4 linked regions of the Homo sapiens genome follow. The protein of the gene in region 3 interacts with the protein of the main gene of each other region in a biochemical or structural test. Each region holds a gene or a part of one and is shown on either strand. Other genes may lie near its edges. The genes, in order: NOTCH1, GLI1, RUNX3 and DTX2.

What was found.
Region 1: the proteins of RUNX3 (region 3) and NOTCH1 form a complex in vitro, tested with the Homo sapiens proteins (one study listed by BioGRID).
Region 2: the proteins of RUNX3 (region 3) and GLI1 form a complex in vitro, tested with the Homo sapiens proteins (one study listed by BioGRID).
Region 4: the proteins of RUNX3 (region 3) and DTX2 form a complex in vitro, tested with the Homo sapiens proteins (one study listed by BioGRID).

The regions. Positions count from the first base shown.
Region 1 is NC_000009.12:136,504,509-136,509,257, reverse strand, and holds part of NOTCH1 (neurogenic locus notch homolog protein 1 preproprotein), read left to right. Parts: intron 1-186; coding exon 187-388; intron 389-872; coding exon 873-1,026; intron 1,027-1,118; coding exon 1,119-1,303; intron 1,304-1,820; coding exon 1,821-1,953; intron 1,954-2,284; coding exon 2,285-2,542; intron 2,543-2,618; coding exon 2,619-2,731; intron 2,732-3,376; coding exon 3,377-3,948; intron 3,949-4,153; coding exon 4,154-4,585; intron 4,586-4,749. UniProt on the Homo sapiens protein: Functions as a receptor for membrane-bound ligands Jagged-1 (JAG1), Jagged-2 (JAG2) and Delta-1 (DLL1) to regulate cell-fate determination.
Region 2 is NC_000012.12:57,465,586-57,470,334, forward strand, and holds part of GLI1 (zinc finger protein GLI1), read left to right. Parts: intron 1-21; coding exon 22-111; intron 112-202; coding exon 203-340; intron 341-654; coding exon 655-804; intron 805-1,747; coding exon 1,748-1,912; intron 1,913-2,408; coding exon 2,409-2,639; intron 2,640-3,845; coding exon 3,846-4,113; intron 4,114-4,731; coding exon 4,732-4,749. UniProt on the Homo sapiens protein: Acts as a transcriptional activator. Binds to the DNA consensus sequence 5'-GACCACCCA-3'. Regulates the transcription of specific genes during normal development.
Region 3 is NC_000001.11:24,922,916-24,927,664, reverse strand, and holds part of RUNX3 (runt-related transcription factor 3), read left to right. Parts: coding exon 1-91; intron 92-4,749. UniProt on the Homo sapiens protein: Forms the heterodimeric complex core-binding factor (CBF) with CBFB.
Region 4 is NC_000007.14:76,467,020-76,471,768, forward strand, and holds part of DTX2 (probable E3 ubiquitin-protein ligase DTX2), read left to right. Parts: intron 1-3,000; exon of another isoform or gene 3,001-4,749. UniProt on the Homo sapiens protein: Regulator of Notch signaling, a signaling pathway involved in cell-cell communications that regulates a broad spectrum of cell-fate determinations.

The sequences.
Region 1 (4,749 bases), on a different chromosome or scaffold from region 3:
GTGGTGTGAGAGCCGGGCCCCGGGTTCCCACTGGCCTCCCTGGGTCAGCCAGGCTGCCCTGGGCCTGTCCTGGCCATCAGGCCCCTAGGGTTGAGCAGAAGGGGAGGTGCTGGCGAGGCAGAATCTGCTGGAGCGGGGACCCACCAATGCCCTCCACTCAGCCCCCGCCTGCCCACCCCCTTGCAGCTCCTGCTTCAACGGTGGCACCTGCGTGGACGGCATCAACTCGTTCACCTGCCTGTGTCCACCCGGCTTCACGGGCAGCTACTGCCAGCACGATGTCAATGAGTGCGACTCACAGCCCTGCCTGCATGGCGGCACCTGTCAGGACGGCTGCGGCTCCTACAGGTGCACCTGCCCCCAGGGCTACACTGGCCCCAACTGCCAGGTGAGTGCGCCGGCCACAGAGGTGCCCGAAGGAGGGGCCCTGGGTGGGTGCCTACCTGCGGGAGGTGGGAACGGTCACCCCAGGTCCCACTGTGTCGGCTCGGGGTCACCCCCACACCCCCGGGCAGAGGGTTTCTGGGGATCTGAGCAGCCGGTGAAGGAACCTGATGCGGAAGCAGCAGGCACCTTCGTTTCAATCCCAGGTTTCTGGAGCCGGGGCAGGAGCTCAGGAATTGGGGAATTGAGGAAAAGTGTTCCTTCTAGCAAAGGCCGAGGGTGGTCTGGACCTGCTGAGGGCCCTGAGGGAGACCCAGCCCAGGCTGTTCCTGGTGTGGGGGTGGTGGGGAGTCCAGGGGCGGCAGTTTCCACTTCTGTAGAATGGGTTGCAGCCTGGGTTGGAGTAGGCCCCTTGGCAGATGTGCGTTCTGAGCTACCGGGGAAATGGCCGGGGCGCGGGCACCCAGCTGACCCCAATCTGTCCCCAGAACCTTGTGCACTGGTGTGACTCCTCGCCCTGCAAGAACGGCGGCAAATGCTGGCAGACCCACACCCAGTACCGCTGCGAGTGCCCCAGCGGCTGGACCGGCCTTTACTGCGACGTGCCCAGCGTGTCCTGTGAGGTGGCTGCGCAGCGACAAGGTAACCTGCTGTGCCCACCCAGCTCGGGTCCCAGCCCATCAAGGTCCTCTGTGGGCCTGGGCCTCACCTGTCTACCACCCCATCCCCCGCAGGTGTTGACGTTGCCCGCCTGTGCCAGCATGGAGGGCTCTGTGTGGACGCGGGCAACACGCACCACTGCCGCTGCCAGGCGGGCTACACAGGCAGCTACTGTGAGGACCTGGTGGACGAGTGCTCACCCAGCCCCTGCCAGAACGGGGCCACCTGCACGGACTACCTGGGCGGCTACTCCTGCAAGGTGGGGGTCCCTCCTAGGGTAAGGGTTGTGGCCGGCACGAGTGTTGCCACACACCAGGCCCTGGCTGGGAGCTGGCCCAGTGGAGAAAACTGAACCTGATAGGCCCATGCACTGTTCAGTCTCATTAGGGGAGGGCTGGGGTAATCAGGGTAGACTGCCTGGAAGAGGTGGCCTGTGGAAAGCCTGAAGGAGGGTACCTATACTGAGAAGTGGGATGGGGTTTTCCCTTCCCCTAGATTGTGTCTGGGCTTGGCCAACACCTACCCTGAGGCCCTCACCTCTATCCTATGGGACGGGGTCCACCCACCCCCAACAGGCAGTGACTCCGGTCACCGAGGCCCCGCCAGGGTCTGTTGGGCTGGGTCTCTCTCCAGGTCTGACAGGAGCGAGGGGCCCGTGGCTTCGCTGGACCTGAGGGCAGCTCATGTGGCCCTGTCAGCCCTCACAGTGGGGTGTGGGAGCACTGCATCCTGGCGCCGGCTGAGCCGAAGGGCCCCTCGTTCTGTCGCCTGCACAGTGCGTGGCCGGCTACCACGGGGTGAACTGCTCTGAGGAGATCGACGAGTGCCTCTCCCACCCCTGCCAGAACGGGGGCACCTGCCTCGACCTCCCCAACACCTACAAGTGCTCCTGCCCACGGGGCACTCAGGGTAAGGGCCGCTGCACGGAGGGCTGGTGTTGGCCATCCATGGCCAGGGCAGGGGCAGGGCAGGCACCCCGGGACCGGCCAGAGGCATCCAGGAACCAGCCAGAAACTCCCATTTTCCTGTGTGAGGCCAAGGCCGACTCACAGCTGCCCAGGGAAAGGGCCCAGAGCGGGGGTCCCAGTGGGAAGGGCGTCTCCACGGCACCCTTGACACCTGCCTCTCCCGAGTGTCCGTGCAGCCCCAGACCTGAGCGCTCGTCTTCCGGGACGGACACGCGGCACGGCAGGGCCGGGGTGTGGCGGGCTTGGGCCACTGACGAAACCTGGCCCCGCAGGTGTGCACTGTGAGATCAACGTGGACGACTGCAATCCCCCCGTTGACCCCGTGTCCCGGAGCCCCAAGTGCTTTAACAACGGCACCTGCGTGGACCAGGTGGGCGGCTACAGCTGCACCTGCCCGCCGGGCTTCGTGGGTGAGCGCTGTGAGGGGGATGTCAACGAGTGCCTGTCCAATCCCTGCGACGCCCGTGGCACCCAGAACTGCGTGCAGCGCGTCAATGACTTCCACTGCGAGTGCCGTGCTGGTCACACCGGTGGGTGCCGCGCCCAGGCGGGTGGGGCGTGTGGGGCAGCAGGGTGAGCCTCTCACTGCCCTGCTCTTACCCCTAGGGCGCCGCTGCGAGTCCGTCATCAATGGCTGCAAAGGCAAGCCCTGCAAGAATGGGGGCACCTGCGCCGTGGCCTCCAACACCGCCCGCGGGTTCATCTGCAAGTGCCCTGCGGTAGGTGCAGGGGTGCAGGGAGGCAGGGGCCCGCCAGGGGAGACACCTGGAGAGGTCCACGTGGGGGCCTCGGGGCGCAGACCGGGCAGTGATCCTCCCGGCCTTCATCCTCCTCCTCACCCTGATGTCTTTTTTTTTTTTTTAGTTTCAATAAATGATTTTAGAGACATTTTAGATTTATAGAAAAATGGAGCAGGAAGTAGACTCCCTGGGGTGGCTGTCCCCTGCACGCAGTTCCCCTGGTTAGCAGCTTGCATCAATTTCACTCTGGATTTCAGTGATACATTGTTACCAACAGCAGCCCTTCCTGTACCTGGGGCTTGCCCTTGGCTTTGTGGTTGTGGGTTTGGGCTGAGGTATGACATGCCTGCCCACCCTCGCAGGATCACGGCAGAGAGTCCCTGCCCTAAAGTCCTCAGCACTCCACCAGTTTACCCCTTCCTCCATCTCCCGACCCCCTGGCACCCCCGATCTTTCTCTGTTGGTAGAATGTGTGTAAAGGGTTTTGCTGCTGGGGGCAAGGTTGCAGGCCGCCTCCCAGGTTAGAGGAGAGCGGTGGCACTGCTGGCCGAGGGCTGGGTGTGAGGTGGCGGGGGGGCGGGGGGTGGCCCACCCCGACACCGTCCTGTCTTCCCTCTCGGGCAGGGCTTCGAGGGCGCCACGTGTGAGAATGACGCTCGTACCTGCGGCAGCCTGCGCTGCCTCAACGGCGGCACATGCATCTCCGGCCCGCGCAGCCCCACCTGCCTGTGCCTGGGCCCCTTCACGGGCCCCGAATGCCAGTTCCCGGCCAGCAGCCCCTGCCTGGGCGGCAACCCCTGCTACAACCAGGGGACCTGTGAGCCCACATCCGAGAGCCCCTTCTACCGTTGCCTGTGCCCCGCCAAATTCAACGGGCTCTTGTGCCACATCCTGGACTACAGCTTCGGGGGTGGGGCCGGGCGCGACATCCCCCCGCCGCTGATCGAGGAGGCGTGCGAGCTGCCCGAGTGCCAGGAGGACGCGGGCAACAAGGTCTGCAGCCTGCAGTGCAACAACCACGCGTGCGGCTGGGACGGCGGTGACTGCTCCCTCAACTTCAATGACCCCTGGAAGAACTGCACGCAGTCTCTGCAGTGCTGGAAGTACTTCAGTGACGGCCACTGTGACAGCCAGTGCAACTCAGCCGGCTGCCTCTTCGACGGCTTTGACTGCCAGCGTGCGGAAGGCCAGTGCAAGTAAGGCTGCGGGGCTCATGGGGCTGAGGGAGGACCTGAACTTGGATGTGGCCTGGCTTGGGCCCGGAGGCCAGCATGCAGTTCTAAGGCTCTGCTCAGGGGGTGCAGGGACGTCCCCCGCGGCTGGCCAGTGGGCTGGAGGCACCGGACGGCGGGTGCGAGGCCCCCCGAGGAAGGCGGCCTGAGCGTGTCCCGCCCCCCACAGCCCCCTGTACGACCAGTACTGCAAGGACCACTTCAGCGACGGGCACTGCGACCAGGGCTGCAACAGCGCGGAGTGCGAGTGGGACGGGCTGGACTGTGCGGAGCATGTACCCGAGAGGCTGGCGGCCGGCACGCTGGTGGTGGTGGTGCTGATGCCGCCGGAGCAGCTGCGCAACAGCTCCTTCCACTTCCTGCGGGAGCTCAGCCGCGTGCTGCACACCAACGTGGTCTTCAAGCGTGACGCACACGGCCAGCAGATGATCTTCCCCTACTACGGCCGCGAGGAGGAGCTGCGCAAGCACCCCATCAAGCGTGCCGCCGAGGGCTGGGCCGCACCTGACGCCCTGCTGGGCCAGGTGAAGGCCTCGCTGCTCCCTGGTGGCAGCGAGGGTGGGCGGCGGCGGAGGGAGCTGGACCCCATGGACGTCCGCGGGTGAGTGAGACCCGGCGCCCACGGTCAATCCCCGCAACTCTCCTGGGCCCTCCCCGACGGCCTCCCTGCCCCTCACGGCCGGCGCCATGGCAAGCAGTACTCTCCCCACTTTATGGTAAAAGAGACGGAGGTTCCGAGAGGACCTGGGACTTCAGGGCCTGCGC
Region 2 (4,749 bases), on a different chromosome or scaffold from region 3:
TCACCTCTTCCCCTGGGGAAGCTGAAGTCTGAGCTGGACATGCTGGTTGGCAAGTGCCGGGAGGAACCCTTGGAAGGTGATATGTCCAGCCCCAACTCCACAGGCATACAGGTAAGGGGATGGGCAGGAGCTTTACCTCTGGGACCTGAGCAAAACTAAAGCTGTCACCCAAGTGACCCTGAGATTGCCTCTCTTGCCCTAGGATCCCCTGTTGGGGATGCTGGATGGGCGGGAGGACCTCGAGAGAGAGGAGAAGCGTGAGCCTGAATCTGTGTATGAAACTGACTGCCGTTGGGATGGCTGCAGCCAGGAATTTGACTCCCAAGAGCAGCTGGTGCACGTGAGCCCCAGGGGGTAACAGGAATGGCTAGCCAGAACCTTTAGGAGATTCTGAGTGGGACATGGTGGAATCCGGCTGAGGGCAGGAGGTCAGAGGAGACTGAGGTTGAATGCTCAGTTGGGTAGGCAGAAGCTCAGAAGTTGTAGCTTTGCCTTAGGGAGCTGGAAGACCTGAGATGTGAGATATGATATTGCTCCTGCCTCTTCCTCCTTGAGGTGGAGTCGTGGAAGAGGAACAGGGGGTGGAGGGAAGGTCTGTTCTGGACCTCAGGGTCATGGGAGAGCCTTGGAGAGCCTTTGTATCTTCTCCCTCAGCACATCAACAGCGAGCACATCCACGGGGAGCGGAAGGAGTTCGTGTGCCACTGGGGGGGCTGCTCCAGGGAGCTGAGGCCCTTCAAAGCCCAGTACATGCTGGTGGTTCACATGCGCAGACACACTGGCGAGAAGCCACACAAGTGCACGGTGAGGCACCAGTGTCCCAAGTCCAGGGTCTCTTCCTAAATCAGGGCTCTCCTTCAAGGTAGGGCCCAAGGCAGACTTTTGCTTTTATAAGTCCTTTCTTCCATAAACAAATATTAAAAATAATGTTTGTGTGACTGTGTTGGCATAAAGATGAATATGATGATATATATTAAAACACTCTTGGACCTAAAAGCTCATTTTTTTCCCCTTGATTTTAAAAGACATTAAAACAGGCCAGGCACGGTGGCTCACACCTGTAATCCCAGCACTTTGGGAGGCTGAGCCAGGCAGATCACAAGGTCAGGAGTTCGAGACCAGCTTGGCCAATATTGGTGAAACCCTGTCTCTACTAAAAAATATAAAAATTAGCTGGGCGTGGTGATGGGCGCCTGTAGTCCCTGCTACTTGGGAGGATGAGGCAGAAGAATCACTTGAACCAAGGAGGTGGAGGTTGCAGTGAGCTGAGATGGCGCCACTGCACTCCAGCCTGGGCGACAGAGCAAAACTCCGCCTCAAAAAAAAAATTTTTTTTAAAAAAGACATTAAAACATGTTCGTGGGCCTCTTAAAGTATTGTTGGCCTTCAGTACTGTGCCTACTACTCTGCCTAATGGATAAACCCTGCATCAAGGACAACAGCCCGTTCCCCCAAGATGACCCCATCTTGGGACAGCCTAAGATCCCCATGCAGAGAAATCTGCCCTGGCTTGGTCAGAAGATGCTCTAGCATCTTTATATTCCCAAAGGGAGAGTGCCTCCAACTGCTTCCCTTCTCCAAGTTCTTGCCTGCCCTTGTCCCCTAGTTTTGGGAATTCTCTCGAAGCCCCAGTGCCTTTCATCTTGAGTTATATTCTCTGATGTGTGTCCTGTTGGAGATTGAGGGTTCCTTCCATCTCCATGTCCTCTGTCTGAGAACTATCCTTTGACCCCTGCATGTCCCCCAGTTTGAAGGGTGCCGGAAGTCATACTCACGCCTCGAAAACCTGAAGACGCACCTGCGGTCACACACGGGTGAGAAGCCATACATGTGTGAGCACGAGGGCTGCAGTAAAGCCTTCAGCAATGCCAGTGACCGAGCCAAGCACCAGAATCGGACCCATTCCAATGAGGTGAATGCCCTAACTAAGCGACCCTCCCCTCTTGAGAAGCCACCTACCAGGGAGATTCCCCCATAAGAAATCCCTTAGCCCAGCACCCACTCCACAGAGGTGAGTCCCCCTCCCCACATAATTCGCCCAGAAAAGGCTTTTCTGAAACCCAGAATTTCCACTTAACCACTCCTCCTCCTACCTCTAACCTCTAACCAGCCAAAAGGCTAACCTAAAAGATTCCATCTAGAGGAGACCCCTGATCCCTCCAACCCCTGGATTTATGGGACCTCACAGCCCTGGGTTCACCCCCTCATCTTTCCCAGGCTGTCAGTTTTCCTAACCCTCCACTTAATCTCTGCATCTTTGACTCCCACCGGAGGCCTCCATCCTCCTTACTTCCTTTGGTGCTGTGTGCTCCTCCCCTGCCCCCTGTGTTGTCACCACTTTTTCCCATTTCTTCTGCATTCTTCCGCTTTGATCCGTTTGCCTTCTGTCTCCACTCTCCACTCAACAGAAGCCGTATGTATGTAAGCTCCCTGGCTGCACCAAACGCTATACAGATCCTAGCTCGCTGCGAAAACATGTCAAGACAGTGCATGGTCCTGACGCCCATGTGACCAAACGGCACCGTGGGGATGGCCCCCTGCCTCGGGCACCATCCATTTCTACAGTGGAGCCCAAGAGGGAGCGGGAAGGAGGTCCCATCAGGGAGGAAAGCAGACTGACTGTGCCAGAGGGTGCCATGGTGAGAGAGCCCAGGCAACCCTCACCTCCATACCCCAGCCCACCCTGTGGACATCTTTCTAGTTACTTCCCAACCCATCCATTCCCTCCTATAGAAGTCACTCTTCTGTGACCAGTCTGCCTGTCTCTTGTCTTAGTGTTGCTCTTTGGGCTTCCCCAAATCTAGAGGTTTTAGAATCTTTCTGTCTCACTCTCTCACTCTCTTTCTCTCTCTCCTTCCTTCCTTCTTTCCTTCTTTCCTTTCTTCCTTTCTTTCTTTCTCTCTCTCTCTCTTTCTCTCTTTCTTTCTGACAGAGTCTTGCTCTGTCGCCCAGGCTGGAGTGTAGTGGCATAATCATAGCTCACTGCAGCCTCAAACTTCTGGGCTCAAGTGATCACTACAGGCACACCCCATCATGCCTGGCTAATTTTTCTTCTTTTTAGAGATCGAGTCTTGCTATGTTGACCAGGCTGGTCTCAAACTCCTGGCCTTGAGCGATCCTCCCACCTCAGCTTCCCACAGTGCTGGGATGAGCCAATGCATCCAACCCAAACTCTTTCTTTTTTTTTCAGACGGAGTCTCGCTCTGTTGCCCAGGCTGGAGTGCAGTGGCATGATCTCGGCTCACTGCAACCTCCGCCTCCCAGGTTCACGCCATTCTGCCTCAGCCTCCTGAGTAGCTGGGACTACAGGCGCCTGCCACCACGCCGGGCTAATTTTTTTGTATTTTTAGTAGACATGGGGTTTCACTGTGTTAACCAGGGTGGTCTTGATCTCCTGACCTCGTGATCTGCCCACCTCGGCCTCCCAAAGTGCTGGGATTACAGGCGTGAGCCACTGCACCCGGCAACTCTTTCTTAAATAGCACTTAGTATATGTTCCAAGCCTTTTACATGTATAATTTCATGTACTCCTCACAGCAACTTCATGATAAAGGGACTCACTGTTCCCATTTTCAGTTGAAGAAACTCAGGCATAGAGAAATAGCCCAAGGTCATAGAACTAAGAGCAAGAATTTGAGTCCAGCCAGTCCGTGCTCCAGCCTAGGTTCTTCTCATCAAACGTCTCACATTCAGTTTGCTCCCCCATCTCTTACCTGCTTAGCCCTTTCTACACTTACAAGCTTCCTTGGAACCCCAGCAGTCACTGGGACACAGGCTTCAGCCACTCATCAAGTTGAAGGAGCTGTGGGGAAGGGTGTTGCCCTCAGACCTCATCTTCTCCACAGAAGCCACAGCCAAGCCCTGGGGCCCAGTCATCCTGCAGCAGTGACCACTCCCCGGCAGGGAGTGCAGCCAATACAGACAGTGGTGTGGAAATGACTGGCAATGCAGGGGGCAGCACTGAAGACCTCTCCAGCTTGGACGAGGGACCTTGCATTGCTGGCACTGGTCTGTCCACTCTTCGCCGCCTTGAGAACCTCAGGCTGGACCAGCTACATCAACTCCGGCCAATAGGGACCCGGGGTCTCAAACTGCCCAGCTTGTCCCACACCGGTGAGACCTGGGTGTGGGAGGTGTGGCTGGGGTGAGATCTGGACCTGCCCTGAGGTTGAGAGGAGGAAGTCACCCTTGAGGGCTGTCACACAGCACTTTTGTATAATTAGAAAATGGTGTCCTTCCTCAAGACACTTTCCATTTATCAGAAAATAGTTGTGATGTACAAACATGCAAAGGCTAGCCAGGCATGGTGGTGGGCACCTGTAATCCCAGCTACTCAGGAAGCTGAAGCAGGAGAATTGCTTGAACCTGGGAGGCAGAGGTTGCAGTGAGCTGAGATTGCGCCATTGCACTCCAACTTGAGCAACAAGAGCGAAACTCTGTTTCAAACAAAACAAAACAAAACAAACAAACAAACAAGTATGCAAAGGCTATGATGCGAATGCTGTTCCCTAGGATTGTGCAGCACACAACCTGCACAACTGTTCATAGCAACCCTGAATCCTTGGTAACCCAGAAACAGAATAGGCATGGGAGAAGTAGGAGACAGAACAGACTGGTTAGGGATAACGAGCTTACCCCTGAGAATCCAGGGCAAGGCTGTTGCATGGAGGAGGCAGGGTGAAATTTAGGAAGCTCCTTGACCATCCTACCTTTTCTCCCCATCACTTGCAGGTACCACTGTGTCCCGCC
Region 3 (4,749 bases):
TACTCCGCTGAGCTGCGCAATGCCTCGGCCGTCATGAAGAACCAGGTGGCCAGGTTCAACGACCTTCGCTTCGTGGGCCGCAGTGGGCGAGGTAAGTGGAAGGGAGGCCTCGCCATTTCAGCATTGGCAATGGCAGGGGCAGCAGGGAAGGAGGTTGAAAGAGGGGCCTTAGAATCCCGAAAAACAGGTCTCCAGATGCAGCTCTGTCTAAAAACAGCAATTTGTAATCCTGTAGGATATTACAGATCGCTTTGAGGAGGTGAGGAAAGTTATGGTCTCTTGCCAGAAAAAGACAATTTTCTCCCAGTTTCTAGGGTTTACCAACTCCTGAAACCGTTCATGCCACCCCCTCTTTCCCGGTTAAGCACACCTGGTCTCACAAAAAATGCTGGCAGGAGATGGTGGATTAACAAGCTCAAAAAGGGAGCTTATAGGTCTTTCAGCAAGGCGGTTGCAGGACAAGTCCCTGATCTGTGGGGCCCAAGCACCCCAGCCACTCTCTCCATAGGGGGCAGAATATCCCCCACACTCTGAGGCTGTCTCTCCAGCTGTGGTCTCCCAGACCCAGTTTCCCAGCGCCTTTGAGCCCTAGGTGGTCTAGAACGGAAGCTAACGCAGCTGAATGTTGGAAAGCACAGCTCGAAGGCTGCCATCTCCTGCCCCAGAGTCAAGGCGGGTGTGCCACCCTGCCTGTCTGACCGACCTTGAGCAGCAGAAGGAAGGCGGGACGGGGGTGGGGGGCTGTTGAATGGGAGGCTTCTGGGACCTGAAACCCATCATCACTTAACTCCTGGATGGGAAAGTCCTGGAAACCCTGCCCCTGTGGAACGGAGGCCTGAGGGTCCACTGGCCCTTTAAGACCAGCCTGCCTACGAGAAGTGGCTGAAGTGGGAGTCGCCCTTCCCAAGCACCAGGCCCGCCTCTAGCTTTGTTAAGAAGTAAGCTGGGTTCCCTCTGCTCCCCAACTCCACAGCAGGCTGAAGTGGCTGAAGCAGAACCGTGCTTTTCATCACCAATAAACAGGACCTTCTCAAGGTTCTAGTTCCCTCTGAGCTGCCAGCCCCGCTCTGAAACAGGCATCTGGGCACCATTTTTTCCTTTCCAGCCGTTCGATGTATACATACAAATGTCAGCCATATTTTGACTTTTCAGCATTAATTAAAACCAGGACATTATTTGCATGTAATAACTGTTTACTTGTTACTTTTTATGAAACTGAAATAGTTTACATTCTTTCAAACATTTCCTGTTCCTGTTGGCTCCCTTCCCCACACACAGATTTCTTTCAAACGGTGCCCTTAACTGGTTGCAGGTTGATGGATGGAAAATGTTTGCTTTTATGAATTAAGCTTTCATTGCTGCTCCTAATTAGTCTCCAAGTCCCTTTTGTCATCCCCAATCTCTCAAACCCTTTGCGACTTAATCCCAACCCTGAGAGGACAGTCACTGGTCCTTGGTCGGTGGCAGACAAGGCTGATGAGCTCTGCTGACTGCGGGGCAGTGGCCAGGTCTGCTAGCCCAGGTATGTGTCAGGAGCACTATAGCTGCTGCCTGTTGCGAGGCGGGCAGAAGGTGCTGTCGATCTGGGAGCCCAGCAAGGCATCAGGAACTTGATTCTCCCTTCCCACTCTCTCTCCTGGGAAGCGAGAGAAAGAGAAGAGACGACGATTTTCTGAGTTACCGAGACCTTGTCTGGCCATTCTGCACACTGAGAATGATTTTTTTAGGGGTTTTCATGCCCACAGACCTTGAGCCCCCCTCCCCAGGCCTGCAGGGAGGGAAATGGGTTTCCAAGGCGTTGGTTGGGAGCTTGTCCTTGTAGCAGGAATGGCCGAGGCTGGGACTGTGGCTCTGGGAGATGCAAGAGGCTGAGTTTATAAACCATTCTCTCATCCATCTCCTCTCAGAGGTCCATAACCAGTCTCAGTGGTCCTGGGAGGCAGGAAGTGATCTGAGGAGGAGTTCCGATGTCTGAGGAACTGTGGCTAAGGCGTTCAGCCTTCAGAGGCTCGAGGTCTTTGAGAGCCTGCATTCTAGTATCAGCCACCCTGCGTTTGAGTCCCAGCTCTGCTAATGACTTGCTGGATGACATTGGGCAAATGACTTAACCACTCTGTGCCTCAGTTTCCTCATCTGTGAGATGGGGATGATAATGGTACCTACCTCATGAGATTTTGGGAAGGTTAGGGAAATTGACACAAGTGTATCAGCTGGCGCATATTGAGAGCTGGATACATGTTAGAGATTTTGTTACTTCAAATGCCTGGGACTGGAGGAGGACTTTGAGGTCCCTTTGAGCGGTGACAGCCACTGATTCTCTGATTACTGTGTGGTTTGGGCGGGGGTGGGGGAAACCCAGAAGGTGTGAACTGCTGAGTGGGAGAGGTGGAGGCGGTTGGCAGGGAGGAAGGAGGGTGCCGGGTCCGCTGGCATGCAGACACACATCTGCAGTGCCCATCCTGCTGACTGGGAAATTCCCACCTGAGAGAACAGTCAGTGGTTGACAGTGACAATCTGGGCCACTTTAGGAGATGGGACACTTTGGGAGTTAAGACTGGGGGTTGGGACCCAGAACCCTTGCCTGGGTCTCTTGACTTCTGCCAGAACTAAGAAGTCTGATGGAAACCTCTGCTTGTTGCCTCAATTTTTAGTTCTACATTCTGTCTGAATTCCAGGAAGATGGCTTTCCATGAAAGACACGCACCCAGTAACACCACAGAGCTCTTAACAACAGGGCTGAAGGTGTGAACCAAGAAAAGGAAGGGAGGAAAACCAGGTCATTGCTGTCTCCTGCAGTGATTAGGGCTGAGGTCCCTGCCCTGCCAGACACGAGGAGCCTTTCTTACAATACATATTTTATATCAAGCCTTACTATTCTACGTTGAAATGTATAAATAATGAAACCTACCTATTTACATGCAGTTGCAAACTATGTTATTCCATAGCTATGATGGAGAAAAAAAGGGAAAGTAATTTATAATAAAACACTGATTTGAATATGTAAACGTTGGGGCCACAGGACTCCATGAGGTGGACGAATGCCCTCCATGCAGAAGCCCACAGCAGAGGGAACAGGCAGGGTGGCAGGGCTCAATCTGAACCTGGCCTTGCTGCCAATACCATGACTTTCTGAAGTTGTCAACACCTGTTGGCAAAGCGCTGAACAAAATTAAAAAAAAAAAAAGAACTGTCTTTCCTTCTGGAAAATTCAGTAGATATTAAAAGTACAAAAAAAACCCTTGTTTTATGTAAAACTGAGTTAGGTTCATGACTCAGATAATTTTTTTTTCTTTTACTTTTTTTTGGGACAAGGTCTCGCTCTGTCGCCCAGGCCAGGGTGCAGTGGTGCGATCACTGCAGTCTCAACCTCCTGGTCTCAAGCAGTCCTCCCACCTCAATAGCTGGGACTATAGGCATGCGCCACCATGCTCAGCTGATTTTTTAAAATTATTTGTTGTAGAGATGGGGGTGTTGTTCACTGTGTTGCTCAGGCTGGTCTTGAACTCCTGGACTCAAGCGATCCTCCTGCCTCAGCCTCTCAAAGTGTTGGGATTACAGGCATGAGCCACTGCGACCAGCCAGAGAACTTTTATAAGCAAGTTTTTCCCTCCCAGGAAGAATTGAATCTTCACCACCCTGGGCAGCGTTGGGTGCTGGCATCCCCCACCACATACACGCACCCCACCCCTAACGCTGGCAGTGCCACCCCAACACTATGTTGACCACACGCCACCACAAATCCCAAAAATGCCCCTCTAGCAGGCGGCCACTGGCCTAAGTGAAAATGAAAAGCACATGAGCTCTCGAGCTGTGATCAACTGGTTAAAAAGCAACTGTGTGTCGACAGAGATTCGGGGTGCAGTGTGCCGGTGCAGGCTGAGGGGAACCGCTGGTTGGGGGAGAGATGAATGGCTTCTTGGCTGAAGCTGAGAAAACCCCGAGGTCCCCTGAGACTGAGACACGTCCCCTCCCCCCACCCATGCAGCTCCTGTGGGTGGGGCGGGGACCTTATACACATAGGAACCCAGGCAGAGAATGCTCAAGGACTTGCCTGAGGCCCTGCTGCCACCCCGGCTGGTTGATGATGGGTCCTGGAGGAGTTTCTGGAGCCCTAAAGGAAACCCATTTCCCAGACCAAGACTTCTCCCCTGCAACCAGGGCCAGCCCTCAGAGAGCCTGGGTTTACACTTCCTGGGCTCCTGATGGATTGCAGGTTTGCCTGGGACTCCTGCACAGAGTTATATCTAGAGGCTGAGAGAGAGGGATGGATGGGTTTGCCACTGCCAGGCAGAGAGAGAGCTGGGCAGGGCCGGGGTAGCTGAGGGGCACTCAGGGAGACAGCTTTCTCCCACCCCTGCTCCCCAGGCTCCCTGTCTCCCGAGGTCCAGGACTCCTGCCCCTCCCTCTCACTCCTCCTCTTAGGCCCCACACTCCTCTCCTTTGTACCTGGGAGGGGTGGTGACAGGCGTGGAAGCTGGTGGAAGCGGCCGAGGAGTGCTGGTGACCTCAGGGGTGGCATGTGGTTTGCTACCTGGTATGGGTGGGGGCTTCTCACTTCTCAGGAGCGGGACGTTAGTACCTGTGTGCAAAATGGGAGCCATTATCTCTGCCCTTAATTTATTTAACAAATGTTGTTGAGCACCTACTCTGTGCCGGATGCCGTCCTAGGGGCTGGAGACACTGCATGAACAAGACAAAAACTTGGGCCCCTGGGGAGGTTATAATCTAGTAGAAGGAGACAAAATGAGT
Region 4 (4,749 bases), on a different chromosome or scaffold from region 3:
CCTCCTGAATAGCTGGGACTACAGGCACAGGCTACCATGCTTAGCTAATTTTTAAAGTTTGTGCAGAGGCAGCTTCACTGTGTTGCCCAGGCTGGTCTTGAACTCCTGGGCTCAAGCAATTCACCCGCCTTGGCCTCCCAAAGTGCTGGGATGATAGACATGAGCCACCATGCTCGGCAGTGTTCATCTTTCGTAGCTATTGCTAGACCATTTCCTGAATGTAGTGCTTATACCAGTATCCACTTTACCAGCAGTGTCCTGTGTCTTGCAGCTCCACAGTCTTACCAACATTTGCTGTTGGCCAAGTGAATGGGTAGAAAATGGAATCTTTGGGAACTTGGTTTCTAGGTCCCTGAGCCCTGCTGCTGAATATCTCCTCTTATGTTTATTGGCATATGTGTTTCCTGTGAAATATTCATGTCTTTTGCCAGTTTTTCATTAGGGTTCTTGGTGCTTTATTTTTTGTTGATCTATAGGGCTCTTTATATATTGCTGATTTTAATCCTTCGTGTCTATTGCAAATATCTTCTCCCAGCTTTTAACCTATTATTCCTCTTTCTTTAAGGTGTCTTCTGTTGATCAGCCATTCTTCATTTTAACATAGCGAAATGTATTTTTTCCCTAGTACTCAGTTTTCTGGGTCTGGTTTGAAGTCTTTTCCTGAACATAACCCTTGCCTTTAAGGAGCGTATGCATTCTCCAGTGGAGGAGACAGATAATGGCACTGAGACGTCATGTGGGCATTGATTGTTAGAAGTGGCCACTTCTGCCTGTGGAGCGGGAGCGAACTTAGGAAAGATCTCACAGGGCAGAGTCTTGAGCTAGGAATTAAGAGATGAGTAAGTGGACAAGTGCGATGGGCATTCTCAGTGGGGGACGAAGGGCATGAAACATCCTGACCTGCCCTGGGCACTGCCAGGAGGTCCAGATGGCAGGAGCTGACGGTTTGAGGGGCTCGGGCAGGGCATCCCGAGGACAGCTTTGGGTGATCTGTATGCAAGGGAATATTGAAGCCATGGGAACAGATCCTGAGGATCCGGGGGGAATGGAGAGAGGAGGGGAGGAGGGGAGAGGGAGGCCAGGGCCTGATTCCCGGATGCAGAGAATGTTATCAACGCCCGGTGTGGCTCTGGGGAGCACCTGGGGCTTCCCAGGGGCGGGTGCTGTTGGCATGCTGCCTGCTGTGCTGTTGGATGCTGTATTTCACCCTTAGGTGTTGGGCAAAGGCTGACATGTCTGCAGAGGGCAGGGCGTGTTGTTGGCAAAGCTAGCCAGAGGCAGAGCACTCTCTCACTTTTTGATAGAGACATGAGTTCAGAGAAGTATTGCTCAACTGTAGGAGTGTGAAAGTACAGTAATAGATGTGAGGGAGGCCACAGGGCAGAGGTCTGCAAACGATGGACCCTCAGCCAAATCTGGCCCACTGCCATTTTTTTTTTTTTTTTTTTTTTTTTTTTGAGATGGAGTCTCACTCTGTTGCCAGGCTGGAGTGCAATGGCACGATCTCAGCTCACTGCAGCCTCCGCCTCCCAGGTTCAAGAAATTCTCCTGCCTCAGCCTCCTGAGTAGCTGGGATTACAGGCACCAGCCACCATGCCTGGCTAATTTTTGTATTTTTAGTAGAGACAAGGTTTCACCATGTTGGCCAGGCTGGTCTCGAACTCCTGACCTCAGGTGATCCACCCCCGCTTGGCCTCCCAAAGTGCTGGGATTATAGGCGTGAGCCACCACGCCCAGCATTTTTTTTTTTTTTTTTTTTTTGAGGCAGGGTCTAACTCTGTTGCCCAGGCTGGAGTACAGTGGCACAGTCTCGGCTCACTGCAGCCTCCGCCTCCTGGGTTCAAGTGATTCTCCTGCCCCAGCCTCCCAAGTAGCTGGGACTACAGGTGCACGCCACTACGCCTGGCTCATCTTTGTATTTTTTTGGTAGATACGGGGTTTCACTGTATTGGCCAGGCTGGTCTCAAACTCCTGGCCTCAAATGATCCACCCACCTCAGCCTCCCGAAGTGCTGGGATTACAGGCGTGAGCTACCGCATTCAGCCCCACTGCCTGATTTTGTTCATAAAGTTATATTGGTATGCAACCCCTCCTGTTTACACATTGTTTATGGTTGTTCTTGTGGTCTAGTGGCAGAGTCACTGCAAAGACTTTTTCTGTCCTTTACAGGAAAAGCATGCTGGCCCTAGCCATAGGGAGTCATGGTAGCTGTGGCCACCCAGAGAGGACGTTCCAGCCACCATTGCAGTTTAGCTGGTGTTGCTAGGTAGATCATGGATCTAGGTCCAGCCTGCAAATATTGCCATCTTTCCTGATTTTCAAGGGAAGCTTGAAATCTAGATTTTTTTTTTTTTTTTTTTTACTGTGAATATTCCTTTTTTTTTTTTTTTTGAGACGGATTCTCATTCTGTCGCCCAAGCTGGAGTGCAGTGGCATAATCTTGGCTCACTGCAACCTCCACTTCTTAGGTTCAAGCAATTCTCCTGCCTCAGCCTCCCGAGTAACTGGGACTACAGGCGCTCGCCACCACACTTGGCTAATTTTTTGTATTTTTTAGTAGAGACAGGGTTTCACTGCATTAGCCAGGATGGTCTCGCTCTCCTGACCTCATGATCTGCCTGCCTCGGCCTCCCAAAGTGCTGGGATTACAGGTGTGAGCCACTGAGCCCGGCCAAATATTCCAATTTTTAAACATCAGCTCAGTTTTTAAAAGCCAAACCTTAGTAACCCAAGCAAAACACATCTACAGGCCAGTTTGTCCGTCGTCAGTCTGTCTTGGTGGGAAAGACAGGAACTCTGGAAACAGATTTGGGTTTTCTCAGTCCCTGGATATCCTTGGGCAAGCTGCATGTCTTCTGGTGACTCACTTTTCTCAGTTGTGGTATGGAAATATCCCGCTTCCCCAGTTGTGAGGACCAACGAGAATTACTAGTCAGGTGGAGGGGCTTAGCACGGTGCCTGGTGCCTGGTAAACCTTTACCTGGTAGCCATTGCTGTTATTCATTTATTTATTTATTTTACACAATAATTTACTTATTGAGAGCCTTCTCTCCCCGCCCTTGCAGTCTCTAGGTCACTTTTTCCACTTGTAGATTTTGTGCACAAGCCCCAGAAAGATGGCTGGGGGCAGGGGCTCTGCGTACTATTCGATGAGACCCATAACGTGGCTGTAACTGTCTTTCTCATACTGCAAGAACACGGCTGGCAGATCCAGCTCCTCGTATAGTGCCTTCACCCGGGCCACCTTCTCGGCCTCCTTCTGCCTGTAATTTTCCTTCAGGATCTGGTACTGTTCTGGAGTGGCCTGTAGCAGACACTGAACCACCAGCCAGCTGCATTTGTTGTCCTGGAAGTCATTGCCAACTCTGCCAGTCACACTGGGGTCCCCAGAGAAGTCAAGGTAATCATCCTGAATCTGAAAGAACTCTTGAATCTCCAGCAGGATCTTCTTGGCACTGGTGTGCTCCTTCTTGTCATCCATTCTTGACATGTACATGGCTGCAGCTACAGGAAGGTAGAAGGAGTAGAAAGCTGTCTTGTACTTGACAACAGATTTGTGCCTTTTTTCGGTGCATCTGCGAAGATCCACATTGCCCTGGGGGGTTGTGATGAGGTCGAGGGTCTGCCCAATCTCAGTCTGATAAGAATTCTGCTGGAAGAGCTCCATCAGGTTCAGGTAATAGGGCTGCTCCCGGCAATACAGCTTCAGCAGGCAGTAGATACATGCTTCCAGAAGGATAGCATCATTGATGGCATCCAAACCCATGCCCAGCTTCTGATACCAGGAGATCTGTCCCTGGCAGGTAAGGGATGAATCCATAATGTCATCTGCCACCAGGAAGAAAGCTTGCAGCAGTTGCGCATACCAGCCCACAGTCGGTGCCCACTGGAGACTATCAGCATCCAGTTTCCTCGGCTCCACCAGCTCCCGGAACGCTACTAGCACCATCAAACCTCGGTGATACTTGCCTCCAATGGCATTGTACTCCAGGACCTCCTTGAGCCGGGCAGTAGCATCTCCTGTCTCTGGGTGCCCCATCTCATCCTCAGTCAGCACCCTAACGATCTGGGAGTAGTGCTGAACGAAATCCTGCTTTGCTTGGGCATAAATATCTGATTTCTGGTTTCCATTCGTTCTTTTTTTTTTTTTTTTTTTTTTTGAGACGGAGTCTTGCTCTGTCGCCCAGGCTGGAGTGCAGTGGCGCGATCTTGGCTCACTGCAAACTCCACTTCCTGGGTTCACGCCATTCTCCTGCCTCAGCCTCCCTAGTAGCCGGGACTACAGGCACCCGCCACCGCGCCCGGCTAATTTTTTGTATTTTTAGTAGAGACAGGGTTTCACCATGTTAGCCACGATGGTCTCGATCTCCTGACCTCGTGATCCGCCCGCCTTGGCCTCCCAAAGTGCTGGGATTACAGGTGTGAGCCACCGCGCCCAGCCTGGTTTCCATTCATTCTGAGGGAGGAGCAAAGGGCTGTGTTCCTGGATGCGGGTTCCTGCTTGGCTGTTATTTATTTTTTTTTAAAGAGACAGGGTCTCGCTCTGTTGCCCAGGTTGGAGTGTAGTGGCACGATCATAGCTCACTGCAACTTTGAACCCCTGGGCTCAAAGCAGTCCTTCTGCCTCAGCCAGTCAAAGTGCTGGGATCACAAGGTGTGAGCCACTGCACCAGGCCTGCTATTACTGTTACCATTACACATCCACTGCTGCCCCTATTACTCCCCTACTTTGCCCTCTGGGTAGGCCCG